Regions from separate parts of the Homo sapiens genome. Here region 1 is linked to region 2. The links come from fine-mapping of genetic effects on plasma protein levels. A gene starts in region 2. The other region holds a variant in brackets. All regions are shown on one strand. Distances are from middle to middle.

What was found. PIP is the chance, under the fine-mapping model, that this variant and not a neighbour inherited with it causes the effect. Protein levels are from antibody-based Olink assays in UK Biobank. Linkage for the fine-mapping came from a reference panel and not from the study's own genotypes, which makes the PIPs less certain.
Region 1: its variant is fine-mapped to the plasma level of the EXTL1 protein (UK Biobank, PIP 0.92).

Annotation. Positions count from the first base shown.
Region 1 is chr1:25,950,442-25,966,052 of GRCh38, forward strand. PAFAH2 (platelet activating factor acetylhydrolase 2) reads right to left here. Exons shown (of 11, transcript NM_000437.4): 11 at 9,326-11,642. The coding sequence ends at 11,548. It also overlaps the pseudogene RNU6-110P. Among named protein-coding and RNA genes, the nearest start is that of PAFAH2, 40 kb to the right of the region's middle. The variant C/T (reference allele first, on the strand shown) is at 7,172.
Region 2 is chr1:26,010,147-26,025,148 of GRCh38, forward strand. It overlaps EXTL1 (exostosin like glycosyltransferase 1), which reads left to right and starts at 11,629. Exons shown (of 11, transcript NM_004455.3): 1 at 11,629-13,279. The coding sequence starts at 12,501.

The sequences.
Region 1 (15,611 bases), 59 kb before region 2:
TATACAAAAACTTCAAAAGCTTCACGTGGTAGCACACACCTGTAGTCCCAGCTACTTGGAAGGCTGAGGCAGGAGGATCACTTGAGCACAGGAGTTTGAGGCTGTAGTGAGCTATGATTGTGCTCCTGCACTCCAGTCTGGGCAACAGAATAAGACCCCATCTCTTAAAAAAAAAAAAAAAAGACCCAAAACTCCATGGTACAGTTGCCAGAAATCACGGATGTCATGGTGAAAGGGTGGGTCCTGAGGATTTTCTTAATAATCCAACAAAATCCTGGCATCCACGGATGTATCTAGAACACTAGACTACAAGTCAGAAGATCTGGATTTTAATTCAAGTCTGCCAACCACCTGCTGAATTTCTTTGAGCTCTGGTTTCCTCATGGACCAAATAACTTAAGGCCTCTTCCAATTCTAAAATTTAATGATTCTGTGTTTTCAGCTAGCAATTACTCTTATTTCATAAAAGAAAATAGGCTAGTAGGCCAGGTGCAGTGGCTCACGCCTGTAATCCCAGCACTTTGGGAGGCCGAGGCGGGCAGATCACGAGGTCAGCAGTTCATGACCAGCCTGGCCAACATGGTGAAACCCTGTCTCTATTAAAAATACAAAAATTAGCCAGGCATGGTGGCAGGCACCTGTAATCCCAGCTACTTGGGAGGCTGAGGCGGGAGAATTGCTTGAACCCGGGGGGCGGAGGTTGCAGTGAGCCAAGACCATGCCATTGAACTCCAGCCTGGGTGACACAGCGAGACTCTGTGTCAAAAAAAAAAAAAGAAAAAAAAATAGACTAGAAGGCTTATACCACAGCAAGGATTCTCAAACTTCACTGTGTATCAGGAAGTAATATTCCTGGAACTTACACACATGTACACACCTGGGCCCCCCTCCAGACCTTCTGAATCAGCATCTCTGGATCTCTGGAGTCATGGCCAGGGTATCTGTATCTTTATTTTTATTTATTTATTTATTTATTTGAGATGGAGTCTTGCTCTGTTGCCCAGGCTGAAGTGTAGTGGCATGATCTTGGCTCACTGTAACCTCTATCTCCCGGGGTCAAGTGATTCTACTGCCTCAGCCTCCTGAGTAGCTGGGATTACAGGCATGCACCACCACACCCGGCTAATTTTTATATTTTTAGTAGTATTTTTAGGGGTTTTACCATGTTGGCCAGGCTGGTTTCAAACTCCTAACCTCAAATGATCCACTCGTCTCGGCCTCCTAAAATGCTGGGATTACAGGCATGAGCCACTGTGCCTGGCCTGGATTTTTATGCAGTTCCCAGGTGATTTGGATGTGCATCTAGAGCTGAGAATCGCTAATCTACAATATTTAGGCTAGAGATTAAAAAAATTTTTTCTGCCAGCTGGTTGGCTCTGTGGTTTACAGGGTATGGTACTAATGGGTTTGTCCCCTGAATTGTTCACTTTATACAAGGTGTATGAATGAATGGAGCCCGTTTACTGCTAGAAAAACAATTCAAGGTGTACATTTTACTGTCAGAACTCAGTCTGGTCTTCAATTAAAACGGCTCTTGGACCTAACTGCTTAGTGCATTTAGCTGGATATCAAGTTGTGGGCTACTTTAGCCTACCTAGGGTCAAGAATCTCTTTCCTATTGTGAGATAGTAATGACCAGGAGTTAAGAGCACTGACTCTGGGCCCGGTGCAGTGGCTCACACCTGTAATCCCAGCACTTTGGGAGGCCAAGGTGGACAGATCACTTGAGGCCAGGAGTTTGAGACCAGCCTGCCCAATATGGTGAAACCCCATCTCTACTAAAAATACAAAAATTAGCTGGGTGTGGTGGAGTGCACCTGTAGTCCCAGCTACTTGGGAGGCTGAGGCATGAGAATTGCTTGAACCCAGGAGGTGGAGTTTGCAGTGAGCCGAGATTGCACCACTGCACTCCAGCCTGGGCGACAGGGTGAGACTGTCTCAAAAAAATAAACCCCCCAAAACCCCACTGACTTTGGAGCCCAACCATTTAGGTTCAAATACTGGTTCTAGCACTTACATGCTGGGTGACTTGGCTGGGCTAGCAAATCTTTCTGAGTCTCGCCTTCCTGATCTACAAAATGAGGCTAACACGCACTACCTTACTGGAATGTTGTTAGGATTAAATGATACAATGCAGAGTATCTGGCCAGAATAAGTGCTCATTAAGAAGTAGCACATTAGGACAAAACCAAAATATGGCACTTTTTATAATTAACAGCAACGTATATGTGTCCGGTGCTTTGACATCTTACATTAAGCCCATCCCTAATCCTACCCAAAAAATTCTGAGGTGGGCAAGGTAGATGCCAGTGTCCCCATTTTGCAGAAAAAGAAACAAAGGCTCGGAAAGATTCACTGGCTCCAGATCAAACAAAAGAAAAATGTCAGAGTCTGGATTCAAACCTGGGTGTGATTCCATGAAGATGAATAATTATATATACACACTTGGCAGGCTGAGCATCTCGGGGCCATCTGGCTTAACAGGCTGAAAAGAACTGTATTTCTGAGCAGCTTCTTTTTTTAGATGAAAGCAAGATGGGAAAAATAAGCTGGCAAACTGCTTTCCCTCATTTTCAACACTGGTGTGATTTGTGCTCAGTTCTGCACTCCTTCTAACTCCCAAATGCTACTTGTCCGTGCAACTTAGAAGTTCGCTCCAGCTGCTTTGGCTGTGCTGCTGCTGGCTCTGCCCTGGCCCCACAGCTGGGACCTGGGAAAACCAAAAGAAAAGGAAGCAGAGGCAGCTGGAGATGTCAGAAGGCTGGGTGAGCTCCAGCTGTTCCCAAGTCTGTCTGGGGAACGAGGGCTGATGGGGGGCTGGGGCCAAGGATCCCTGTCCCCCATGTCAGTCAACAGGAGGATGCTCTTTCCTGTACAACAGATGGGCCCTGCTCCTGGAATAATGTGATAAAGGGCAATACTAAATCTGGCACAGACTGGATTTCTCTTGGGGAACAGGAGGCCAAGAGATCAAATGTTAGTCAAATTTAATCAAGAAGGCTTTCATGGAAGAGGTGGGATTAGAAATAAGCCTAAAGCATTAGCAAGATTTGGATGTGCAGAAAGGAGGTGGGGATGAGGTGGGGAAGCCCTGCAGGCAAGAAAATCCTCAGGAGAGCTGGACGCGGTGGCTCACGCCTGTAATCCCAGCACTTTGGGAGGCCGAGGTAGGCGGATCACTTGAGGTCAGGAGTTTGAGATCAGCCTCGCCAACATGGTGAAACCCCATCTCTACTAAAATACAAAAATTGGCCAGGCGTGTTGGTGCGTGCCTGTAATTCCAGCTACTTGGGAGGCTGAGGCAGGAGAATCACTTGAACCTGAGAGGTGGAGGTTGCAGTGAGCTGAGATTGCGCCACCGCACTCCAGCCTGGGTGACGTTTTGTTTGGGGAATGTGTGGGCAAATGAAGGGGACTGTGGGAAGAGTGCACATTAAGAAGTAGAAGGCAGGAGAGGAGAGGCGAGGTCAGAAAGAATGAAGAAGTGTAGTGCGATTCTACAGGAAAGGGGAAGCCAGGCGCGGTGGCTCATGCCTGTAATCCCAGCACTTTGGGAGGCCAAGGTGGGTGGATCACGTGAGGTCAGATGCTTGAGACCATCCTGGCCAACATGATGAAATTCCATCTCTACTAAAAATGCAAAAATTAGCCAGGTGTGGTGGCACATGCCTGTAATCTCAGCTACTTGGGAGGCTGAGGCAGGAGCACTGCTTGAACCTGGAAGGCGGAGGTTGCAGTGAGCCGAGATCGTGCTATTGCACTCCAGCCTGGGCGACAGAGGAAGACTCCATCACAAAAAAAAAAAAAAAAAAAAAAAAAAAAAAAAAGAAAGAAAAAAGAAAAAAAAGAAACAGAAAAAAAGGAAAGGGGATTCCTGGAAATCCATGACACCTCAATAACAGAGATACTGAATGCCAGAACTGAAGGGGCCTTAGAGACCGGCCAATTCAACAACCACCAACCCATGTCCCAATTTACAGATAAGGAAACTAAAGCTGAAGTTGAGAGAGGAAAACCACACACACACGCACACACACATGCACATGCACACGTACACATCACAGAGCAAACAGGTGATAGAGGCAAGAACCCAGGGCTCCAGACAACGAGTCCGTCCTGTTACCATTAGACCATCTTACCAGGCTGGTATTTTCATGCAAAAGCAGCATTTCAGGCAGATCTGGCAGCAGAACGCCGGGGGGAAAGAGAGATTACAGTCCAGAAGACTGCGAAATGAGCCCAGGGGTGAGCTGGCAGGACAGCAGGCTCAAACAAGATGGAAAGGATGGGCTGAGTGGGAGAACCACCAAGAGTGAAGAAACAGGAGGACTTGGCAGGAAACCGTGAGGGAGGGAGCTGTGCAGAGCCAATTCACCGGCCATCTGCAGGCCTGGGGGTTTCCCCTGAGGAGGTCACCATGCATTCTGACCCCCTCACCTGGTGTCAAAGGCAGCAGACAAAAATTAAGACAACTAGCCTCTGCTACAAAGCCCCTGCCCCCAGCTCCTCCCTTTGGCCAACCTCTCCACAGATCTGTTTCTCCCTTTTGACATTTTAGGATCTTCAATTTGCAGCTGAGGCATAGATGTGTTTGGATGATCTGGTGTGAAATTAAAACCCAAACCAGAACCTAAGAGTGTGGACTCTTCCAGGTGGAAAAGCAAGCAAGGCTAGAACTAGGGTGGGGATTTTGATTTTTCATGTGAGGAGCAGGGATAGCAGAGCAAAGAGAATGGGAAACTGTCTCTCCACCTAGCTCCACCCTGACATGAGGACACAATGGTAGTAGGTGGCTGGCAGTTAGGAGGGTCCACTCGAGGAAGGTAACCGTGAGACTGTAGAAGCTGGAATAACAATTTAGACCAATGGTCAGGCATGGTGGCTCACGCCTATAATCCTAGCACTTTGGGAGGCTGCAGTGGGAGGATCACTTATCCCAAGAGTTTGAGACCAGCTTGGGCAACATAGGGAGACCCTGTTTTTACAAAAAAAAAATGTTTTTTAATTAGCCAAGCATGGTGGTGCATGCCTGTAATCCCAGCTACTCAGGAGACTGAGGCAGGAGGATAGCTTGAGCCTGGGAATTCAAGGCTTCAGTGAGCTGTGAACCCACTACTGCACTCCAGCCTGGGTGACAGCAAGACTCAGACAAGAAGGAAGGAAGGAAGAAAGGAAGGAAGGAAGGAAGGAAAGAAGGAAGGAAGGAAGAGAGGGAGGGAGGGAGGGAGGAAGGGAAGAGGGAGGGAAAGAAAGAGAAAGAAAGGAGAAAAAGAGAAAGAGAAAAAGGAAGGAAGGAGGGAAGGAAGAAGGAGGAAGGAAGGAAGGAAAAGAGTGAAAGGAAAGGAAAGGAAAGAAGGAAGGAAGGAAGGAAGGAAAGAAAGAAAGAAAGAAAAAAGAAAGAAAAAGAAAAAAAGCACTTAGACCAAGATCATTGGGGCCATTTAGTTCAAGGGCCCATTGTACCTAACCTTACAGCTATGTAAGGAGGCCCAAATGAAACAAGACTGGTAATAGCTAATGTTTATTAAGTCCTTAATCTAGCCACCATGTTAAGTGCTTTACATGCATTATTTCATTTAATTATCACAACCACCTTATGAGTTAAATACTATTAGAATCCCCATTTCACAAATAAGAACATTAAAGGCCATAGAAGTGAATGAGTTAGCATAAAGTCACAGGGCTAATAGTGTTGGAGCTGTCTGATTTCAAAGACTGTGTTCTTAGTCCCTGAACTGCTCACACCTGTAACCCCAGCCCTTTGGGAGGCTGAGGCAGGAGGATCATTGGAGCCCAGGAGTTTGAGACCAGCCCTGGCAACACAGACAGACCACTGTCTTTACAAAAAATAAACAAAAAATTAGCCAGGTGTGGTGATATGTACCTGTAGTCCCAGCTACTTGGAAGGCTGAGGTGGGAGGATTGCTTAAGGCTGGGAGGTTGAGGGTACAGTGAGCAGTGATCATGCCACTGCACTCCAGCCTGGGCAACAGAGTGACACTGTCTCAAAAACAAACAAAAAACAAACAACACCCCACACCCCACCCATCAACCAAGTACCTGACCCAGTTTCCGGTGAAGCCATTTTTCTCCCTCAACCCATTTCTCAATAATGCTGAGGATATCACTGAAACTCAACACAGGTCATGTAGAAGTTGCTGAAGATTTTGGTATTTTTTAGTTAATTGATCATGAGATTAATACATTCCCTATATCCTGAGAGTTTGAAGAAATGGGAGAAACTGCAAAGCCAAGTATGTATATTAGGGTTAACAGCACAGTAATTAAGAGCTCAGATTTTATTAGCCGGGCATGGTGGTGTGCGCTTGCGGTCCCAGCTACTCAGGAGGCTGAGGCAGGCAGATGGATTAAGGCTGGGAGGTCGAGGCTGCAGTGAGCTGTGATTGCGCCACTGCGCTCCAGCCTGGGTGACAGGAGACCATCTCAAGAAAACGAAACAAAACAAAAACCCTTGGCTGGGCATGGTGGCTCATGGCTGTAATCCCAGCACTTTGGGAGGCCGAGGCGGGTGGATCCCCTGAGGTCAGGAGTTCAAGACCAGCCTGACCAACATGGTGAAACCCCATCTCTAGTAAAAATACAAGAATTAGCTGGGCGTGGTGGCACATGCCTATAATCCCAGCAACTCTGGAGGCTGAGGCAGGAGAATCGCTTGAACCCTGAAGGCAGAGGTTGCAGTGAGCCGAGATCATGCCATTGCACTCCAGCCTGGGCAACAAGAGCAAAACTCCATCTCAAAAAAAAAAAAAAACCCTCAAACTTTGATGCCTATGTCCCAGCTTTGCCAAATTCTTGCTGAGAGCCTGATGAAATCGCTTCTTGAAGCCTGTTTCCTCCTACATAAAATGAGGCCAATGCCACCTGAGCTGGTGGGGTTACCATGAGAAGTAAGTGAAATGATGCATGTCAGCCCAGAGCACAGTCCTGACACACAGCGACAATCATCCTCAGCACCCTCATTGTCACTGTGCCCTGCAGCTATGGCCAGGGACAGCTGCCCTCTGCACCTGGCTATGATGGGATAGAAAGTGAGCTTCCTAATGAGGATGAGTCCCAAACATACAGTATGGCCTCTCCTGTCCCTCTGTCACTTTGTGAGCCTAGGGATAAGTGGTGCTCCAGAAAAAAAGGGGGTAGATGAAGGTCCCCA[C/T]AAGGTCAAGACACGGAGTTGGAATCCATCATTTGACATTTCAAGAGCCCAATAGAATTTTTGAGGAAGGACAAGAGGGGCAGCTGTGTCAGAATGCACAGTGGAAGGGGCTCGGGGATTGCATTAGGGACACAGCAAGAATCCAACCAGCCTTAGTCTGAAGTCCAGGAAGTGGAAGGGATATTTACTTACCTTCCTTCCTAACTGGCTTGCCATCCCATGCACAGAAACTTCACATTATACCACTAGGAGGCCTCCATAGGCACAGAGTCTTGCAGCGGGATGGGGAATGAGAAGATGCCAAAGAAACCCAAGACAGGCCGGGCGCGGTGGCTCATGCCTGTAATCCCAGCACTTTGGGAGGCCGAGGCGGGTGGATCACGAGGTCAGGAGATCAAGACCATCCTGGCTAACACAGTGAAACCCCGCCTCTACTAAAAAAAAAAAAAAAAAGAAAAGAAACCCAAGACATCCTCTTTCTGGAAAAGATTCACTAGGATGCAATTTATCAGCACATGTCAGTTATCATCAGGATTTCCTTGCTTATCTAAAGGCCATTTATGAAGTATCCTTCAGGCCCCTGGAAGCTAACCAAAAACCAGAATGAGAGACCAAAGGCCTTGTGATACCCCTTCTGGAGCAGTCAGAGGATTACGAAGCCCATGCGCTAAAGGTGACATACTTTAGCTGCAAGGGAGTCCCTAAAACCCTTGCTCACTGACTGCCTTGTTTTCCCTTAGACAGAGTTTTAAATAATGTGGCTGATTTATCAGTCCATTGCGCATCGAAAGTCATAAACTTGAAGTGGCCAGGGAGGGCTGCTAGGGGCTGGTGCGTTGAAGAGCGATGGTTGCAGCCTGACCACAAATGAGACAACACCAACTCTGAACAGCAACGCAGCACAGGGGGCAACCCCATGCAAGCCAAACAGCTTTCTGCACCTTCCTAGATCAGAGGACACCACTTCTCTGACATGAGACCTGGTCACAAATATTTTGGCTTTCTTGGGATGTTAGGAATGGCCACAGGACGTGCTTTGGCTTATGACACATGAATAGAAATAACGAGAGTCACTCCCGGGCAGAAGCTCTCAGAGCTAGCGGGTGATTCATCAGGCTTTCTTCCTGTTCCACCATGGTGAACAGCAACACTTTCTGATAATGGCAGCTCTACCAGCCTGGATCCTAGAGTGAGGATAAAAATGATGCAGAGCAGAGCCTGCAGCCGATCAAAGAGCACAAGTGGCATGGGCAAGAAATAAACTTTTGTTGCTTTTGGGATTGCCTGTTACCACCATACAACCTAGTCTATCCTGACTGGAACATCCTAAAAGGTTGAACGAGGTCAGCTCACTTTGATTAAAAAGTGTGTGTATTATCTTTTTGGTAGATTACCATTCAAAATAATCAATATTATATTTTGCTGCCTCTAGGATAATTTTCAATTATATGGAAAATTCACATACTCTAGTGTTTGCTGGATAAATGAGTGATTACCAGAACATGAATTGAATGAAGGAAAGGGATCTAGTTTCTGGAACACTCCCTTCACTAGGGAGGCTCCAGGTCTCTTGTTCATGGTTTTGTAAAATTTACCTGTGTTATTTATGGAGCTAAGGTAGAACCTGGGTCTCACATGCTGCTACTGCCAGAACCGGCCTCTCAGCATTTGTGGAATCAGCACAAGGGTGGCGTATGCTCAGGATTGGCCTACGGCTGGTTCTGCAAGTGCTGAGGGTCTCTGGTGCCCATGTGGTAGTTGGAAGGCCCCATTATATATCTGTCTGTGCTCTCATAGAAGGAAATCTATGGGCTCGGCACGGTGGCTCATGCCTGTAATCCCAGCCCTTTGGGAGGCCGAGGCAGGTGGATCATCTGAGGTCAGGAGTTTGCGACCAGCCTGACCAATATGGTGAAACCCCATCTCTACTAAAAAAATACAAAAATTAGCTGGGTGTGGTGGCGTGCACTTGTAGTCCCAGCTTCTCAGAAGGCTGAGACAGGAGAATTGCTTGAATCTGGGAGGCGAAGGTTGCAGTAAGCCGAGATCATGCTACTGCACTCCAGTCTGGGTGACAGAGTGAGACTGCATCTCAAAAAAAAAAGACAGAAATCTATGATGTGTTCTTGAGTAAAAGAGCAAGCCAACAACTTCTTCAGAATATATAGTCTTTTTAAACATACATGGCACATTTACAACATTGATCTCATACTAGGCCAACAACCAAGTTTCAACAAATTTTGAAGGATGGAAACCATATGGGTCATTTTCTCTGACCACAAAGCAATCAAGCTAGAAAAGAAACTATAACTAGAAAAATCTCATGTTTGGAAGGTAGGAAATATACTTTTAAGTAACCCATGGGTTATACATCCTCTCACTTAATCCTCCTAACTATTCATAACGCAGACCCTCATTTTAGAAACGCAGGAGCTGAGATAAGAAAGAGAATACCATTTGCTCAAATTTACCCAGTTGGCAGTGGTGGAGCCAGGACTCAAAACCAGGCTCTGTAACTTTAGAGCCCAGGGCTTTAATGATACCCTTCTTATGCTATGTCTCATGGGAATTCAAAGATCCTCCCTCACAGCCTCAACGATCTGCTGTTTCACCTCTTAGAATGGCCAGTCACTGACAGGTGGAGATCTAGGCCCAGCTTGCTCTGGTGGCCCTGACCATGGGCCATTGTGTAGAGATGCATTTCCCTTTTGCTCTTACCTACTTGGACTGAGGCACGAAGTCTTGAGTAGTGGAGAAGAGAGTTTCAGTTTGATGCCCCCAAATAGCTTTGAACTGGATCCCTAAGAAGACTTCCTTCCTTTTAAAGTTTTTTTCCCACATGGGCCCAAGTAGTAAGCGAACACAGAAGAAAGACAGAAGGAAGTCAATTCCAGATGGCTCTCCATCTTGCTCTACTGCAGATTAAACAGAAAATTCCAACATAACATTAAGCAAACAAGAGTATTAATATCATTCATATTATAAACAGAACAGAATGGAAATTCAGTCTGTATCTGACTTAAATTTGGGGCAAGGGCCTCAGAGCCAGAAAACAGACAATAAAAGCACCCTGATTCTGAGCAAGTTGGAGGTTTATAATATTTGAGGCAAGAAAAAATGACCAAGGTACTCCTAGGCCTCTCTGGGAGTGGCCTTCTGCGTTTTTAAATTTTATTTATTTTAAATTTTTCTTTTTCTTTTTTTTTTTTTTAAGACAGAGTCTTGCTCTGTCACCCAGGCTGGAGTGCAGTGGCGCGATCTTGACTCACTGCAACCTCCGCCTCCTAGGTTCAAGTGATTCTTCTGCTTCAGCCTCCTGAGTAGCTGGGATTATAGGCGCCTGCCATTACGCCAGGCTAATTTTTTGTATTTTTAGTAGAGACGGGGTTTCACCATGTTGGCCAGGTGGTCTTGAACTCCTGGCCTTAAGTGATCTGCCTGCCTTGGCCTCCCAAAGTGTTGGGATTACAGGCATGAGCCACCACGCCCAGCCTTCTTTATTTTTAAGATGGGGTCTCGCTCTACTGTCCAGGCTGCAGCTGAGTTTTAGCTGACCAAACTACTTCTCTGTTGTGGCAAAGGCCTGTGCAAATGGCCATTTAACACTGTTGTTCTGTCATCTTCCCCATCTCAACCTGCTTTTGTTGTTTCCTATCAAGATACACTTAGCAAAACCCCCAAAGACATCCAGAGCTTCTGAGGTACCTCTGTGTACCTCAGTTTTTCTCCCTGTGCTGTGAGAGCCATGCTGTCTGCCACTCTGTGGGCTCACAAGTATAACTTACTACTGTAAGTATAAGTAGTACTATGTTCCATACAATGAGAAGACTTGGAAATAAATAGAAAATGTGATCACGGCTCACACCTAGAAATTTACATAAAGTGCTCAGACTTCAACAAGTGGCCCTGGGGAGGGAGAAGGCTGAGAGGTAGGAAGAGATGGTGTTGGGCTGGGCTAGAGTCTCTGAAGGTAGGGATTTTCATTCTGTCCTTTGGCTTCATCTCTTCCACTGAAGCAGCAGCACTGGCCGGGGGTAAGGGAATGAGCTTCGCTGGGCTGAGTCTTCACATCCAGGCCTCACAGTGCTCAGCCCGGGGCCTGGGTCTCCCCCAGTCCCACTCTACTGCTTGTTCCCCACTCCATCAAGGTCCCAGAAAGTCTGTTTGTCAATCAGCAAGGGATCCCAGTCCCAAAGTGATTTTAAGATCAAATCTAAGATCAAAGTACCCAGTTATCCAAGCAGCAGTGTGATTACACCTTTCAATCTGTGAAAAGGGGTCACGTTGATCACTTCTTGATAGGAGCTCATGGGTGCCCTTGGGTAGCTCCCAAATGAAAACTTGGCTGAAGTGACTTTACAAATGGCCAGTTGTGCCTACAGGCTGGACAGATGGTGGGGGGCCCCTGGGGTGAGCGACGGTCCAATGCCTTCAATAAGGTTGTTCCATTGATTATAGTCTTCTTTCAGGTCTGAAAAGGAAAAAAACAGGAACATTAGGCAAATCATTGTGAGGTTTGGTCAAAGAGTAGCTGACATGCATTGAAGGGGTCATCCTAGAGAGAGGAGCGCCTGGGATACCAAAAGGACTGGTTTTGGTGGGGTTGTGTGGTGGTGGCGGTAACGATAACTATCATTTATTCAGTGCCTTTATAAATGACTTACATAATCCATAACAATTCAATAACGATAATAATAACAGAGGGTAACATTTATTGATGGAGAATTCATTCTAAGGATTGTACTAAATGCTTTACATTCATGGTTTCATTTAATTTTCACCATATCCCTATGAACTAAGTATTAATACTAATCTTATTATGTAATTCAGGAAACTGAGGATCAGGGAAGCTACCTGAGTTGCCCAAGGTCATTAGAGCTATTAAGTGGTAGAGACAGAATTCAAATCCAAGTCAGAAAGGCAGAGAGGGCTGGGCATGGTGGCTTATGCCTGTAACCCTAGTGCTTTGGGAGGCTGAGGCAAGAGGATCACTTGAGGCTAGGAGTTCCTAGACCAGCCTGGGCAACGTAGCAAGACCTCAACTCTACAAAAAAATTAAGAAATTAGCTAGGTATGGTGGTGTGTGCCTGAAGTCCTACCTACTCAGGAGGCCAAGACTGGAGGATTGCTTGAGGCAAGGAGTTGGCGGCAGTGAGCTGTGATAATGCCACTGCACTCCAACCTGGGCAACAGCAAGACCATGTCTCAGAAAAAAAAAAAAAAAGGCTGAGAAAATGAAAAGTCTAGTTCCAGGCTCAAGGAGGTTACTAGGCAAAAAGCAGTATCTGACAGCTCAGCCTGTGGGTGCAAATCCAGGACCACTTCAGTGAAGGGCAGGAGCAAGAGGACAGCAACATCATGGAGCAGCGAAACTCCAGGAATGACTCAAGAAGGGGCCCTGAGCTCACAGCCAATAGGGGTAACTACACGGCAAGAACAGGCACAAAGGGTCCAAGCCCTCAGGCTGAGGGAGCAGGGCAAGCTAAGCAGATGAATGGTGTCCTTCCTCAAAACAAACAGACTCTGGGACAGAAGGCAGGGACCACTCTCATGCATTTTTGGATTCCCAGTGCCCTGCCAGGAACCTGGCACGGAATAGGTCCTCAATGTATAAGTACTACATAGTCATTAATTCAAAAAACAATAAGCACATCCACTATGTGCCACACTCTGTTCTTTGAGCTAAAAATATATCCACAAACAAAACAGATGGAAACTGCTGTCCTCACAGAGCTCATCATCTAGTGGCAGAGACAAACAATAAACATAATAACTATATAGGATGTGAAAAGGGGAGAGGTGCCATGGAAAAAAAATAGAGCCCGTTAAGGGAAGCACTGGTGGTGGCCAGGGGTTGGAGTGAAGGGAGAAAGGAAGGACCCAATGTTTTTTGTTTGTTTGTTTTTTCTTTGAGATGGAGTCTTGCTCTGTCACCAGGCTGGAGTGCAGTGGTCAATCTCGGCTCAACGCAACCTCTGCCTCCCAGGTTCAAGTGATTCTCCTGCCTCAGCCTCCTAAGTAGCTGGGACTACAGGCATGCACCACCACACCCAGCTAATTTTGTATTTTTAGTAGAGACGAGGTTTCACCATGTCGGCCAGGACGGTCTCGATCTCTTGACCTTGTGATCCGCCCGCCTCGGCCTCCCAAAGTGTTGGGATTACAGGCGTGAGCCACGGTGCCTGGCCAGGCCAATGTTTTAAAAAGGGTGGTCAGGGTGGGCCTCACTGAGAAGGTGAGATTTGAGGCCAGGCTTGAAGGAAGTGGGAGTGTGCCACGAGACTATCTGAGAGGAATGTTCTAGACAGAGGGAGGAGCAGTGCAAAGGCCCTAAGGCTGCAGCGTGCCTGGCGCGTTCGAGGCTCATGTGGTGAGAGTGAAGTGAGCCAAGGGAAGAACAGCAGGGGAGGAGGCCAGGAGGGACTGGAGGGCCACATGACATATACCTGGCAGGATAATCGAGTCTGGCTTTGGCTCTTAGGGAGACTGGGAGCCACTGGAGAATTCGGAGCAGAAGAGTGAGAAGATCTCACTAAATTCCTAAAAGGATCACTCTGGCTGCTCTATGAAGAAAAGACTCTTCAGTGCTCGCTTTGGCAGCACATATACTAAAACTGGAACAATACAGAGATGAGCACGGCGCTTGCACAAGGATGACATGCAAATTCGTTAAGCTTTCCATATTTTTAAAGAGAAATAAATAATAATACCATGATTGAGGAAGCCAAAATAATAAATAAATAAATAAAATGACTCTTCAGTAAAGTTTCAGGATACAAAGTTGGTGTACAAAAATCAGTGGTGGTGATTTTTCTGGGTGCACTGGCTCATGCCTATAACACCAGCACTTTGGGAGGCTGAGGCAGGAGGATCGCCTGAGCCCAGGAGTTTGAGACCAGCCCAGGCAATAAAGTGAGACACTGTCTCTATAAAAAACAAATGAAGAAACAAACAAAAATATCAGTAGCATTTCTATACACCAATAACAATCAAGCTGAGAACCCAATCATAAACTCAATCCCATTTGTAATGGCCACCAAAACAAAAACAAAAACAAGAACAAAACAAAACAAAACCTAGGAATACATTTAACCAAGGAGGTGAAAGATCTCTACAAAGAGAGCTACAAAATACTGATGAAAGAAATTGTAGATGACACAAACAAATGGAAAAAACATCCCACACTCATGGAATGGAAGAATCAATGTTGTTAAAAATGACCATAATGCTCAAAGCAATTTACAGATTCAACGCAATTCCTATTAAACTACCAACGCCATTTTTTACAGAATTAGAAAAAAAGTCCTCAAATTCATATGGAACCAAAAAAGAGCCTGTCAAAGCAACCTTAAGCAAAAAGAACAAAGCTGGAGGCATCACATGACCCAACTTCAAATTATACTACAAGGTTATAGTAACCAAAAGAGCATGTTACTTGTATAAACACAGAAAAATAGATAAATGAAACAGAATAGAGAACCCAGAAATAAAGCCCCCATACCTACAACCAACTGATCTTTGTCAAAGTCAACAAAAATATATACATGGGGAAAAGATACCCTATTCAACAAATGGTGCTGGAAAAATTGGATAGCCATATGAAGAAGAATGAAACAGGACCCATATCTCTCAGCATATATAAAAATTAACTCAAGATGGATTAAAGACTTAAACATAAGACTTGAAACTATAAAAATCCTAGAAGAAAAACTCTTCTGGACATTGGCTCACGCAAAGAATTCGTCCTTAAAAGCAAATGCAACAAAACCAAAAACAGACAAATGAGACTGAATTAAACTAAAAAGCTTATGTACCACAAAAGAAACAATCAACAGAGTAAATAGACAACCTACAGAATGGAAGAAAATATTTCTGAACTATATATCCAACAAAGGGCTAATATCCAGAATCTATAAGGAAAGGCTGGGCATGGTGGCTCACGCCTGTAACGCCAGCACTTTGGGAGGCCAAGGCTGGTGGATCACTTGAGGTCAGGAGTTTGAGACCAGTCTGGCTAACATGGTGAAACCCTGTCTCTATTAAAAATACGAAAAAATCAGCCAGGCATGGTGGCGGGCACCTGTAATCCCAGCTACTCAGGAGGCTGAGGTAGGAGAATCACTTGAACCTGGGGGGCAGAGGTCACAGTAAGCCGAGATCACACCACTGCACTCCAGCCTGGGTGACAGAGCAAGACTTTGTCTCAAAAAAAAAAAAAAAAAAAAAAAAAAAGAATCTACAAGGAACTCAAACAACTCAACAAGAAAAAAAAAAACACATAATCCCATTAAAAAGTAGGCATTCTGCAGAAACTGGACTCAAAAAAAGAAAAAAGTGGACAAAGGACATGAATAGACATTTTTTTCAAAAGAAGACATACAAGTGTCCCACAAACATATTTAAAAAAAAAAGTTCAACATCACTAACCGTCAGAGAAATG
Region 2 (15,002 bases):
GCGAGAGAATTCCCTGGCTGACTCTCTGAAAAGAGCTGGCTGGGATTTTTTATTAGGCAAAGCATGGGAAATGATGGTGGGTAGGTTATGCAGGCTGGGCTGGGCAAAGCATGTGAGAGGTAGGAGATGCAGGTCAGCACATCCGGTTGGATGGTTTTCTTGAGTAATGGGCCATCTGGTGGTGGTCTGACCAGCAGCAACAAACCTGTAAATCAGTTACTCTACAATATAGAATGGTGACTTTCTTTTTTTATTTTTATTTTTTGAGTCGGAGTCTCGTTCTGTTGCCCCAGGCTGGAGTGCAGTGGCGTGATCTCGGCTCACTGCAAGCTCCGCCTCCCAGGTTCACGCCATTCTCCTGCCTCAGCCTCCCACGTAGCTGGGACTATAGGTGCCCGCCACCACGCCCGGCTAATTTTTTGAATTTTTTTAGTAGAGACGGGGTTTCACCATGTTAGCCAGGATGGTCTCGATCCCCTGACCTCGTGATCCTCCCACCTCGGCCTCCCAAAGTGCTGGGATTACAGGCGTGAGCCACCGTGCCCGGCAGTGGCGACTTTCTTTGTTTGGCTAAAGCCTTGGCGTTAGCGGGGATGGTGTCAGCGAGGTAATGGTATGGGTTTTATGATCAGTGAGAATGTGTGAAAGAATGCTCTAGTGGGGGTGAGCTGAAGCCAAACCCCATTCCCACTCTGTCTAGCTTCCTTGGAAAGGAACGGGCAAGGCAGGGTAAGCAGGCTTAGCATTTTCTAGTTTGAACACTGTCAGCTCAGGGGATAGGGGCTTTCCCTAGTAGTCTGGTACCTGGCTCTGGGGTGATGAGGGCCGGAGAATCGTGGCCCTGAGTGTGAGAGCCCAGTAGAGGAGGTGGCATGGGGTGTGAGCTCTTGATTGGTTGCTTTGCACTTGAAAGGCATATTCAAGGGCCCTTGGCTTGCTCTCTCTAGGAACTGGCTAGCTCTGGGAGGGGCAGTCTTTCCAGGGCAGGCCCCAGTGAGACAGAGCATTAAAATACAGGCAATAAAAAGACAATGGTTAATACAGTGTCAAAGCCAAGGAGAGAGTGGGCTTATATTTTACCAAGATCCTCTGGCTGCTGGGAGGAGAAAGTACTTTAGTGAGGCGAGAGGAAAGCAGGGACCAGAAGCCAATGCAATGATCCCGGGTGAGCAAGGCGGCTTAGCTTAGGGTGAGGGCAGGGGAGGTGGGAGCGAGGCTGGTTTCAGGGTTTCTTTGAAGATGAGGCTGATGACCATCCAACAAGGAGCCTTTCAGATTACAAGAAGCAACTTGAGGCTCATTCTATTCTTATTTCTGAGATGCACATTTATGCTTCCTCCCCTACTTATGAATTGTACTATCTCACTCTTCTTTTTTTTTTTTTTAGCTCTGTCACTCATGCTGGAGTGCAAGGGTACAATCACAGCTGACTGCAGCCTCAACTTCCCGGGCTCAAGTGATCCTGCCACCTCAGCCTCAAGCAGCTGGGACCACAGGCACGTGCCACCATGCCAGGCTAGGTTTTTGTTTTTTTTTTAAGAAATGAGGGGGCGTCTTGTGGCCGGGCGTGGTGGCTCACGCCTGTAATCCCAGCACTTTGGGAGGCCAAGGCGGGTGGATCACTTAGGGTCAGGAGTTCGAGACCAGCCTCAACATGGAGAAACCCCATCTCTACTAAAAATACAAAATTAGCTGAGCGTGGTGGTGCATGCCTGTAATCCCAGCTACTCGAGAGGCTGAGGCAGGAGAATTGCTTGAACCTGGGAGGCAGAGGTTGCAGTGAGCCGAGATCACACCATTGCACTCTAGCCTGGGCAACAAGAGAGAAACTCCGTCTAAAAAAAAAAAGGAGAGAAAAAGAAATGGGCGGGGGGGGGTCTCACTATGTTGCCCAGGTTGGTCTTGAACTCCTGGGCTCAAGTGACTATCTCACTCTTCTGATGCTAATGGCTTATTAAAGCAATTTAAGGAAATGACACCTCCAGGATTAGAGGTAAACATAAAGTGTCCAACATAGCGTCCAGTATATAGTAGGTACTGAACAAATCCACTGCTTTTTCTTCCATAAGGGAAAGTAGACTGTGGTTCAAGTATGGGCTTTACCCCACACTGGTTGGGTGACCCTAGACAAGTGACTTCTTTCTTTCTTTCTTTCTTTCTTTTTTTTTTGAGATGGAGTCTCACTCTTGTCACCCAGGCTGGAATGCAGTGGCGTGATCTTTGCTCACTGCAACCTCCGCCTCCTGGGTTCAAGCGATTCTCCTGCCTCAGCCTCCTGAGTAGCTGGGATTACAGGCGCCTGCCACCACGCCCGGTTAATTATTTTTTGTATTTTTAGTAGAGACAGGGTTTCACCATGTTAGCCAGGCTGGTCTCGAACTCCTGACCTCGTGATTCACCCGCCTTGGCCTCCCAAAGGGCCAGGATTACAGGCGTGAGCCACTGCCCCCAGCCTGGACAAGTGATTTCATCACCCTGCATCTCCCTTCCTTAATCTGAAAGCAGAGATAAGAGGGCCTCGCTCTTCTAGTAGTTGTGAAAGTTAAGTGAGGCAAAGTATGTAAGCCCCTTGCAGGGGCTCCACCAATTATAGCAGTAATTATCACATATTCAAGAATGGCAGTCTGGGGCCAGGTTTCCAAGATGGGGCCAAGACTCAGAGAGAAATGGGACAAAGCTCCCTCCATCTCCTCCTTGGTGCCCACCTCTGGGCCTGCTTCCCTCCAGGCCTGATCCCTGCCCTCAGCTCCCACCTCTGCTGGGCATCTTCTCAAAGAGCCAACAGACAGCTGTGTTCACTCTGCCAAGAGGCATCCCTGGGAAAGGAGGAGAGGAGAAAGAAATCTTCGTGTCTGGGCTTTGGAAAGCAGACTGTTAATTACCTGGGGTTGGCAGCAGCCTGCCTGTTAGGTAAACATTTGCCAAGCTGGCTCCATGCATTAACCCCTTGGTACCCAGAGCTGAGGTGTTCAGACGTGGGCTGCTCTAGAAGGGTCCAGAAACTAACTTGAGGGAGGCTGGGCACGGCTTCTGTAGCCTTCAAACAGGTCCAATTCAGGTGAGACATTCAGGAGGATGGCACAGAATGGCTTCAGAATCAGGGTTTGAAATTTACTTCACTTGGCTTGTCCCCAGACCCCTGTCCCAGGAATATGGGATGTTCCCCAGACCCCTGTCCCAGGAATACAGCCCCCAAAGAGGTGGCCAGGACTAAAAGCTCAACCTGCAGCTTGAGGTATGAACAAGGTCCTGTGTGTGAGGGGATGGACCAGGGATGCCTGGTCACCTTAATCCCCCCTGGCTTTCTCTGGATAACAGAAACTCACTCTAGAGGAAGCAGAGACCCACCTCCCAGAGGGAGAGGCCCTGGGTGGTGTTTAGGGGTGGCTGGTGTATGGTAGATGCACCTGACAGCAATAACTGAAGAAACAAGAGCTGCCACATGAAGGATGCTGAGGGAGGGTGCTATGTGGGGATGCCATATATATATATATATATATGTTTGTTTTGAGACAGAGTCTTGCCCTGTCACCCAGGCTGGAGTATAATGGCACCATCTCGGCTCACTGCAACCTCTGCCTCCCAGGTTCAAATGATTCTCCTGCCTCAGCCTCCAGAGTAGCTGGGATTACAGGCGCCTGCCACCCACCCAGCTAATTTTTGTATTTTTAGTAGAGATGAGGTTTCACCATGTTGGCCAGGCTGGTCTCAAACTCCTGACCTCATGATCCACCCACCTCGGCCTCCCAAAATGCTGGCACAGGCATGAGCCACTGTGCCTGGCCGAGGGTACTGTATAAACTGCATTTTTTTTGCAAGCGGTTGTGGTTCTCCCATCCAGCTTGCCACCATGGGACCATCCTGTATGTAAGCCTCCTCAAATAAATCCTATGTCTCATTTTCTGGCTTCATTTCTCTTCTGTAGCCTCTTGAAACTGGTGCCATCCCAGTGGAAGTCCATATGGGTCTGGGACAACATTAATTAGAGGTAGACTTGGTCTTAGGCAAGGTGGCATGAGGAGAAAGGTAAGGCAAGGTGGGCTCGGATTGACTATAATGATCAGTTGTGTATCTACCTGTACAGTTTGCTAAGCACTTTTCCACCCTTATCTCATCCAATGAGTCCCACCGTAAGCCTGTGAGGAGGGAATTAGCCTCCTGTGATGCAGTGGCTCAAATCCAGCCTGTTACTCACTGGCTGTGTGGCCTTGGGGCAATCACTTCACCTCTCTGAACCTCATCTGTAAAATCAGGGGAATAGCCATCTGCCCTGGCAGTTTTCTTGTGAGGCTTAAATGAAATTCTGGATCTAAAGAGCTCAGTAGTGCCTGACACACATTCAACTTCTCCCTTGAATTCCCTATTTTACAGAAGAGGAAAATGAGCCTCAGTGAGCTCCCAAATTATAATCCTCTAAATGTAAAAAAAAAAAAAAAATCATACAAATACACAGTAAGCACATGTCTCTGTTGTTTCACTTATTCATGAGGCAACTCTCAGGATGACAGAGCTGGTTCAGAGAACCCACTGATGGGAGTTGAGGAAGCACAGGGAATGCCAGAACAAGATTGCTAGTTAGATTCCAAATTGGGGAATGCTCTATAGTGCATGAACTAGAACCTTTAGGGGTGATCCCTATTGGTCAGAAGTCATTTGTATCACTATTGGACAAAAATCTGTTTTCTATACATTAGCACCATAGTTCTCAGACTTATTAAATGTTTGGGCCAGGCTGGGCGCGGTGGCTGACGCCTGTATTCCCAGCATTTGGGAGGCCGAGGTGGGTGGATCACTTGGGGTCAGGAGTTGAAGACCAGCCTGGCCAATGTGTTGAAACCCCGTCTCTACTAAAAATACAAAAATTAGCCGGGTGTAATGGTGGGCACCTGTAATCTCAGCTACTTGGGAGGCTGAGGCAGGAGAATTGCTTGAATCTGGGAGGCAGAGGTTGCAGTGAGCCGAGATCGCGCCATTGCACTCCAGCCTGTGCGACAAGAGCAAAACTCCATCTAAAACAAAAACAAAACAAAACAAAACAAAATGAAAAAAGTTTGTACATAGGGAGTAAAAAGTCAAACAAGGCCAGGCACAGTGGCTCATGCCTGTAATCCCAACACTTTGGGAGGGTGAGGCAGGAGTATGGCTTGGGCCCAGGTGTTAGAGACCAGCCTGGGCAACAAAGAATTCATCTCTAAAAAAGAAAAAAAAATTAGCCAGGTGTGGTGGTGTGGGCCTGTAGTCCTGGCTACTCAGGAAGTTGAGTTGGGAGGATCACTTGAGCCTGGGAGGTCAAGGCTGCAGTGAGCCATGATCACACAACTGCACTCCAGCCTGGGTGACAGAGCGAGACCCTGTCTCCAAAAAAAAAAAGGTCAAACAAAGTTACTTCCCTTTAGGGAGTCCTACAACACTTGAGGGCTTGTTACGCAATGCCCCAGTGGGAGGATTAAGGCCACACAGGCTCCTCATTGCTTCACTTCCAAGCTTTACAAAATTTTCCTTAACAAAGTGGTGTTGACAGGATGGGAAATGGAAGGATTGACCTTCCAAGCTCTGTCAGGATTACTTCTGAGTAAGAATTTCAAATCTTTTTGCTCTGAAAAGCCTAGTTCTGCTACCACTTCAGGTTGATGATAAGAAAATGAAAGCCCAAGGCTGGGTGCGGTGGCTCATGCCTGTAATCCCAGCACTTTGGGAGGCTGAGGTGGGTAGATCACCTGAGGTTGAGAGTTCAAGACCAGCCGGGTCAACATGGCAAAACCCTGTCTCTATTAAAAATACAAAAATTAGCCAGGCATGGTGGTGGTTGCCTGTAATCCCAGCCACTCAGGAGGCTGAGGTGGGAGAATCATTTGAACCTGGGAGGCAGAGGTTGCAGTGAGTGGAGATCGCGCCACTGCACCCCAGCCTGGGCGACACAGTGAGACTTTGTCTCAAAAAAAAAAAAAAAAAAAGAAAGAAAAGAAAAACCCGGGACCAGTTCTGGTGGCTCACATCCATAGTCCCGGTATAAGAGGCCGAGGTGAGAGGATCACTTGAGCCCAGGAGTTTGAGGCTGCTGTGAGCTGTGATTGTACCTCTGCGCTCCAGCCTGGGTGACAGAGTAGGACCCAGTTTCTAAAACAAATTTTAAAATGAAAAATAAATTTAAAAAATAAATAAAAAAGAAAATGAAGGCCCAGGAAAAGGGTGTGACTTGTCCAAGATCACATAGCCACGCCTAGAAGAGGAGCAGAGGCTAGAACCTACTTTCTCCAACCCCCGTCCCCAGGTCCCCTGGATGGCTTGCCTGGCCCTGCACCCTGTGGGGTCCAGGAACTGCTCTGCATCCTGGCGGGGGTTAGGGGGTTGTCTACAGGGCCAGACTGAAGTGTCTGCTGGAGTTGACTGATATTGCAGAGTCTTGGGACTCACCATGGCTTATAGTTATGTGCACTCAAGCGAGAGCTGTGACCTCAGAGCCTCTAGAAACCTTCAGCCTCCGCACTTGCTAATTCTGCTGTGAGACACTCAGGCAGCCCAGAGCTGGAGGAACAAACAGCCGTAGACAAGAAGCAGCAGATGGGTTTCCACGGTGATCATTTCCTGGAGTCCAAGTATCTTCTTTCTTCCTGAATGGAGGTGGAGATGCAGCAAGAGAAACAGGGAGGGGGAAGCCCAAGTCTTGGTCCCAATCCACCCAGATGGATACCTTGGCGCTCCTTGGGCAAGTCACCTCAACTCCCTGGGTCTGAGGAGGGACAGAAGGATGCCATTTGCTAGGCGCCTGCTCCACACCAGGCGTGGTATGCTGAATGCTGCACACTCACTACCTCATTTCTTTAATCTCCTTCCCAGTAAGCCTTTAGGGAAGGAGCTATTATTAGCATCCCCATTTTACTGATAGGAAACAGAAGCACAGAGAGGTGAAGTAACTTCACAGGAACACACGGCTTGTTAAGAGCACTTGAGCTGTGCTCTTAACCACAGCATTCTATAGTGCTGGGTCCCTTCCTCTGAGGGCCAGGGCCATTCCTTCTGCAGATTTCAGGCCCAGCCTGAAGCGGGAGGGAGGGAAGGAAGGCCAAGCAGGGTGCAGAGAGGAAACACTTCAGGTGAAACACGGTATTGTTAGCCCCCATTTTCTGCCTGGGCATCCTAGCCAATATGACACCTGGTGCTTCAGGCAGGAAGCACCCCCATGCCCAGGCAGCCCCCAGGCAGCTGTGACACCACCGCAGCTATGACACACGCTGCAGTGCTCAGAGCTCTGCGATGCCTCCAGAGGCATCTGTGTCCTCAAATTCACACAAAGGCCTGCTTCAATCCTGTCCTGTAAGAAACAAGTCCTCTGCCTCCTCCAGGAAGCCTCCTTCATTGCACCTGAGGCCAGGGCCTCTCCTCCCACTCAGTGCTGTCCTCTCCTTCCTGCTCTGGCTCATTCCCGTCGCCCAAAGTGATCATTTCTGTCCCACTGATCAGAGCCCAGGTATAGGATGGAGGCTCCTGGTGGCTTTGTTGAGCACTGAAAAGCCCGACGGAGGCCCCTGGCAGATCCCTGACCTCAGTCCTGCCTGCCAGGATGCCCTGGCCTTCTCTTCCTCCATCCAAGCCCCAGGGCAACCACGTGAATCGCAGGCTAGACAAGCCCAGATTCCAGCTGGCCTGAGAGCCTCCTCCACAGGGATGAAGGTAGGAGAAGGCTTATGTGTGTGCACAAATATGGGCATGGGCAGGAGCCAGCCAGCATCCCCAGGGCTGGGGTGGGAGACACATAGAGCTATTAATAGAACGGGATTAGGTATTCCTCCAAACCCCAAACCAGCTGGGCTTGGCTTCCTAGCTATCTCAACTTTGTCCGTCCCTCCATTCCTTCACTCATTCAACAAGTATTTGTTGGATACATATATCTTTAAAAAAATAAATAAATAAAGACAGACTTGCTATGTTGCCTAGGCTGATCTCAAACTCCTGGGCTCAAGAGATCCTCCCGCTGACCTTCCAACCTTAGCTACCTGAGTAGCTGGGACTACAGGTGCATGCCATCATGCCTGGCTTATTTATTTATTTATATTTGTTTTATATTTTTAAAGATGGGGTCTTCCTCTTGTGCCCAGGCTAGAATGCAGTGGCACCCATAGCTCATTACAGCCTAAAATTCCTGGGATCAAGCAATCCTCCTACCTCATCCTCCCGAGCAGCTGGGATTACAGGCATGAGCCACCAGCTCCAGTTAAAAAAAATTTTTTTTTTGTAGAGACAAAGACTCGCTATGTTGCCCAGGCTGGTCTCAAACTCTTGGGCTCAAGGGATCCTCCTGCCTAAGCCTCCCAAAATGCTAGGATCACAGGTGTGAACCACTGTGCCCAACCTGGACATTTATTTTATTATTGCTGGGGATAAGAAGGATATATGAGAACCAGACTTCTGATCTTCTTCCCTAAAACTGTTCCCCTCAGTTTTCCCCATCTCAGTTAATGACAACTCCACCCTGTCTGTGGTGCAGGCCGGACCTCACATCTAATCTATCAGCAAATCTGTCAATTTGCCCTGGCTTAAAATATACCCAGAATCCAACTACTTCTATTCATCCCACCCCTGCCATCCTGGTCCCAGCCACCGCAGTGGCTCACTTGCACTACAGCCTGGCCCAGCAGGGCTCCCTGCTGCTGTCCCTGACCCTACAGCCGGCCTCTTCCCTGCAGCCTGAGTCGTGCTGTGAAAACAAGGTCAGAGCGTACCAATCACGTGGCAGGCACACTCCTGCCTCAGAACCTGTGGCCCGGCTGTTCCTCTTGCCTGGAGCGATTTTCCCCTAGAAATATACTTCTTCACTCACTCCCTCACTTTCTCAGAAATTTACACAAATGCCAGAGTTTTTTTTGTTTTGTTTTGTTTTGTTTTTTGAGGCAGACTCGCTCTGTCACCCAGGCTGGAGTGTAGTGGCGTAATCTCGGCTCACTGCAATCTCCACCTCCCAGCTTCAAGCAATTCTCATGTCTCAACCTCCCAAGTAGCTGGGATTACAGGCGTGCGCCACCACGCCGGGCTAGTTTTTGTATTTTTAGTAGAGATGGGGTCTTGCTTTGTTGGCCAGGCTGGTCTCGAACTCTTGGCCTCAAGTGATCTGCACACTTTGGCCTCCCAAATTGCTGAGATGACAGATGTGAGCCACTGCACCAGGCCACAAATGCCAGCTTTTTTTTTTTTTTGAGATGGAGTTTCGCTCTGTCCCCCAGGCTGGAGTGCAGTGGCACGATCTCGGCTCACTGCAAGCTCTGCCTCCCGGGTTCAGGCCATTCTCCTGCCTCAGCCTCCCGAGTAGCTGGGACTACAGGCGCCTGCAACCACGCCCGGCTAATTTTTTGTATTTTTAGTAGAGACGGGGTTTCACCGTGTTAGCCAGGACGGTCTCAATCTCCTGACCTTGTAATCCGCCTGCCTCAGCCTCCCAAATGCCAGCTTTTTTATGAGGCCTCCCGTATTTCTGTCTAACATTGCAACCCATCCCATCTCCCCAGCAGTTATTGTCAAATAGTATGAGATATTTATTCATTTTGTTTCTTGCCTATTTCCCCTCCCTGGAGGGTAAGTTCCAGGAGGGCAAGATTTTTTCTGCTTTGCTCACTGCCCTTAAGACCTGCCTGGCCCCACAATAGGGGTTCAGTAAATAGCTGTTGAATGAATGAGAGACTTGTGGGGTGACAGACCAGTCAAAAAGCTGTCCCTGCCTCCAGTCCTGCCATTTCCTGTCTGATCCCACACAGACAGCCACAGCGATTTTTCTAAAAACCACATTGCTGTCTTTCAGGTCTTAGGGTAGGTATCACTTCCTCGGAAGCCTTCTCTGGCCCCCTGGGCTAGGCAGCCCCTCTGTGTACTCTCAGGGTCCCCTCCCCTCATTCTGTAATTGCCTGCAATTGCCTAGTTCTATAATTGTCTTCTCCAGGACAGCGAGCTCTGGAGGGTGGGGACGCGTCTGTCTCCCTCCCTGTTGGGAGCTGGAATGGTGCAGCGGATATAGGAGCACACTACCTGGGTCCAAGTCCTGGCTAAGCCGTGAGAATTCAGGCAAATTACTTAAGCTCCCTCGGCCTCAGTTTTCCCAACTGTAAAATGTGGATCATCACAGTTTCTCCCTCCTAGGGTTGGGGAAAGGATGAAACAAGCTGATACAAAAGAGGGATGCTTGGCACGCTGTAAGTGCAATACGAGTGTCAGCTATGATTACTCTTACTCAGGGTTGTGTTCCTGGCCTAGCTCAGAACCTGGCCCATATTCAACACTCATAAGTGTTTGTTAGATGAATGGATGACTGTGTATGGGGATAGAGGGATGAAGGAATGACATGAGGACCTAGACGGGGGCTCTAACCCAGCCTGCGGAGCATTGGAGAAGCTTCTTGTGGGGAGGGAGCTTTCAGCTGACTCCTGCAGGATGAGGAGTTGGCTGGGCACAGTGAAAGGGGGGGCGTGCGAAGCAGCCAGTGGCCTTTGTGGATGCCTCTCAGTGTGGGAGGACTGAGTTATGCAGGAACTGCAGTTCATCACCGAGTGGCTGAGCCATTAGTGCCAAGAGGCAAGTGTCCCCTTTGTGGGCCATTTTTAGGACTCTCACACTGGCTGCTCACTGAGGGCAAAACATCCCACGGTGGCTCCCTGGTCTGATCAGCAGCCCTCCAAGATCAAGGGGAGGCACGCAGGGGAAAGGAGGCCACCACTTGTTGAGGGACCTCAGGGGACAGGCCTGCGTCAACCTGGCAACCCATTCCTGGCTGACATTATGCCCATCCCAGAGATAAGGGGACAGAGGCCCAACACCCCCGAGGCAGTCAGGGGAAGAGGCAGAACCCACTCAAGTCTGTCCACTCCCTGTGCCTTCCCTCATCAGCCCAGAACTCCTCATGGCCAGAGTGTGTCTCCCCCGTCACCCCAGAGATTCCTCAGTGGCTGACATCACCCACTCCTGACTCCCCTCACAGGGCACTGACCGGGGAAATCCCTCCATGGGGCCTGGACTATGGAAGAGTCAAGTGCAGGAAGAACTTTCCATAAGGACTGGAGCAAAAGGCTGGGAATTGGAGGAGATTGGGGGTGGGGCTGCTGAAGGAGGAGAGACCAATCCTGGGGACAGTTGGGGGCACCTTACCCAATTCCTCCACCCCCGCCCCTTAACTCCTCACTTGTCTCACCTGTTGACCTTCTCATGTGCCGATTCAGAGATTCCTCACACTCAGGCTCTGACCTCCACTGACTCTGATGGCCCACAGCAGGTGCAGGGTCTAGTTTTTCTCCAGCCACAGGGCCCACAGCTGGGGTGACCAACGACCAGGAGCTCAGGATTGAAATCCCCACCCTGCCACTTCTTAGCTGGGTCACCTTAGGAAGAGTTCATCCCCTCTCTGAGCTTTCCTCATCTGTAAGAAATGACAGGTAAATCTCTGCCTTGGAGGGTGGCTGGAGGACTGAGAGACAGAGGCTGTGATAACTCATGGCCAGCTGTGAGTTGCAGTACTTGCTGGTTGGATTAGCAATTGAGGAAACTGGTTTGGAAGGGGTTAAATGGAGACCCTGCCTCCCAGCCAGGAGCGAATCAGGGCTGGGAGGGGAGGAGCCAGGCTGCTGCTAAGGAAAGAGATCAGGATGGGCCAGTTGCCGACTGGAGAGGGATGGGAGGAGATACCATAGGGTTTGGGGGGCTTGGCACAGCGGCCCTGGCCTCTGCACTGTGATAGCTCCAAGCCAGATGGTGCAAGGCAGCTGCTGGGCTGCGGGGAAGAGGGGCTGCACTTCCTGAGCTGGTGCAGCGGCAGAGTGGATAAGGATCAGGACCCCGAGCCCTCCTGGCCCTCCAAGGCAGGGGGACACCGGCTGCACCCAGGCTGTGACCTCAGCTGACGCCGATGATCCACATGGGATGCAGGGTCTAATTTTAGCTCCAGCCACAGGGGCCACAGCCCAGAAGCGTCTGCCAGCGGGCACAGGGGCAGCCAGGGCTGCTCAGGCAAGGGGAGGAGTGGGAAGACCAGCCCAGCTCCCTCCAGCCTGTCCCTGGCCAAGCCGCCTCCTGTGGGAGCTCTGACTGGTCCCCATGGCCTGGCAGACAGCCCTCCTCTCAGTTGAGGGCAAGGTCAAGGGGTGCAGCCAGGAGGGCAGGGGGACACGGCCCTGCATTCTGGACAGGGGTTGCGTCAGCCAGAGCAGTGCCCAGGGGCAGGGGTCCCTGCTGGGAGGGAAAAGGCTGGCTTGGTTGTCCAAAGGCCGAGAAGGCAGAGTCCTGAGAGCAGGGGGGCCAGGCCAGCAAGCTGGGTCCCACCTGGCCTCCTCCTGCCTGGCTGGTGACTCACTATCTGACCTTAGACAGGCGGCCTGGTCTCGATGGGCCTCAGTCTTCCCATCTGTACAATGACAGCACAGGACTAGCAGGTCGGTCCCAGCTCTGGTCTCCCGCCCCAGGCCCTGCTCTTCCTGCTTGCTGGCAGAGGCCTCCCAGCTTCCCTAGCCCTGACTGTGGGTGGCCACATGCAGTCGTGGAGGAGAAGAAAGTCCCTGTGGCTGGCACTGTCAGCCTCCTGGCTCCTGCTTGTCCTGCTGGGAGGCTTCTCCCTTCTCCGCCTGGCATTGCCTCCCAGACCTCGGCCCGGGGCTTCCCAAGGCTGGCCCCGCTGGCTGGATGCAGAGCTCCTGCAGAGCTTCTCCCAGCCTGGAGAGCTCCCAGAAGATGCCGTTTCACCTCCTCAAGCCCCTCATGGTGGCAGCTGCAACTGGGAATCTTGCTTTGATACCTCAAAGTGCAGGGGCGATGGCCTTAAGGTATTCGTGTACCCAGCGGTTGGAACCATCTCTGAGACTCATCGCAGGATCCTGGCTTCCATTGAGGGCTCTCGCTTCTACACATTCAGCCCTGCTGGGGCCTGCCTCCTCCTCCTCCTCAGCCTGGACGCCCAGACTGGAGAGTGCAGCTCAATGCCTCTGCAATGGAACAGGGGCAGGAACCATCTGGTCCTCCGTCTCCACCCGGCTCCCTGCCCCAGGACCTTCCAGCTGGGACAGGCTATGGTGGCTGAGGCCAGCCCCACGGTGGACTCCTTCCGGCCCGGCTTTGATGTGGCCCTCCCTTTTCTCCCTGAAGCCCACCCGTTGCGAGGTGGGGCTCCTGGCCAGCTGCGGCAACACAGCCCCCAGCCCGGGGTAGCCCTGCTAGCCCTGGAAGAGGAGAGGGGTGGGTGGCGCACAGCAGACACTGGCTCCTCTGCCTGCCCCTGGGATGGGCGCTGTGAGCAAGACCCTGGACCTGGGCAGTAAGTGAACCTTTTGCCTTGGGGGCTGGATGGGAGGGGGCTGGAATAGACGCAAGCCCAAAAACGAGGGTAGAAGGCAGGACTGAGATGGGAGAACCAGGTAGTCCTGGTAGACTTAGGCCTCAGCTGCAGCAGCAGGAGGGAGCCAGGTTAGATGGCAGAGAGCACTTCCATTAAGATGGGGACTTGAAGCAAGGGTTGTCTAAGGTAGGTTTTGGAATTCTCCCCTGGGGATCTTTCAAAACATAAAACACGACTCATTCCAAACCTCCTACCCTAATATTTTTTTTCCCCACATACAGTTGTATAGTGCTTACTCTGTGCTAAGCACTTATATAAATAATGATTATAATAAAATATGCTAGTTGTTAGCATTTAAGTGTTTGTGTACCAGGCACGAAAGCTCAGACAGGTTAAGTAATTTTTCTCAGGCCACCCAGCCGGAAAGAGCCAGTATTTTGATCCAGAATTGCCTATCTCCAAAGCCTTCAGTATGAGAATTCTGAGTTTTAAGTAAAAGTTTATGATCAACCTCATCAAATGCCTCAGAAGGGCCTCACAGTCACAGCTGGAAGCTGCTCCCGTGTCTAATTTTGGGGATTAACCTCTCAAAGAAACAGCCTTTGGTTATAGCAAATATGACGCAGGTCAGATCTAAAGAATTTCCTGCCAGTGAGAGGCCCTTGACATATATAAGGGACTGGGGGCCTGTGGGATGTGGTGAGCTTGTACAGAAACTCTTTCCGCCTGGGCTAGTTGGGGGTGATGCGCCTCAGGTGATAGTTATCCCCTAAGCACTCTAACCCTCTGTGTCCCCAGCAGGCCAGCAGCCTCTAAAGGCTAGCTGGGCAGGCAAGAATGGGAGTCCCTCTGAGGTTGTCCAGGGCCCCGGTGGCAGAGGGTTCCTTCTGTATCCCACCATCTCCCAGGGCCTACCTGAGTCGGGAACTGTCACTCTGGTATCCTCCTTTTGCTCCTCCCTCAGGTCTCTCTCCCTATTCTCTGCTCCAACAACATCAACTATTCTGAGCTCCACTCCCTCCCAGGAATTCTTGCCTCTGCTTGGGGCTCCCGGGACTTCTCTCGGCCAAAGGGCTCTCGTGGGAATGGGATCCTTCCACTTCCTGAAGGTACATGGAGGCCTCCAGGGAGCCCTCACAGCCAGGAGTAAGAATGGACTTGTCCCGGTCAGCCCCAGGGTCCTTTTGCTGGGACCTATCCCTAGTGGTCTCCAAGGTGGGAGCCTGAAAAGTCAGGGATCTCCCCCAAGCCCCTGCAGCTCAGCGCTCAGGCAGAAGCTCACTTTGAGCGACAAGGCTCTCCCTTTGCCATGCCCTCCCTCACTTTTCTGATGAGGCACTCAGGTACTCTTGCTTGCAGGAAGTTCTTTTTTCAGCTGACTTTAGTTACCGCTAAGCACAGTTCATTATTGATGAACCTGAAAGTGATTTCAGTCTGAACTTCTTTGAGAAACTGGAAGTTAGGGAGCTGCACACAGCAGGTAGGTGCTCATTAAATGTTTACTAATGGATCTGAAATTGGCCAGAGCCGGCCACGGTTTTCTAATTAGCGTGGGTCACCCTCTGAGTAGCATTTTTGATAAGTTTTATTTCCCAGGGGCGAAGCTTGGCAGCCTTGGACTCTGACCTTCAAGTTTTGTCTTTGGCCTCCGCCTCCCTGAAGGTGACAGGACTTGTCATCTCTGGAGTGGTTTGAGCCTCAG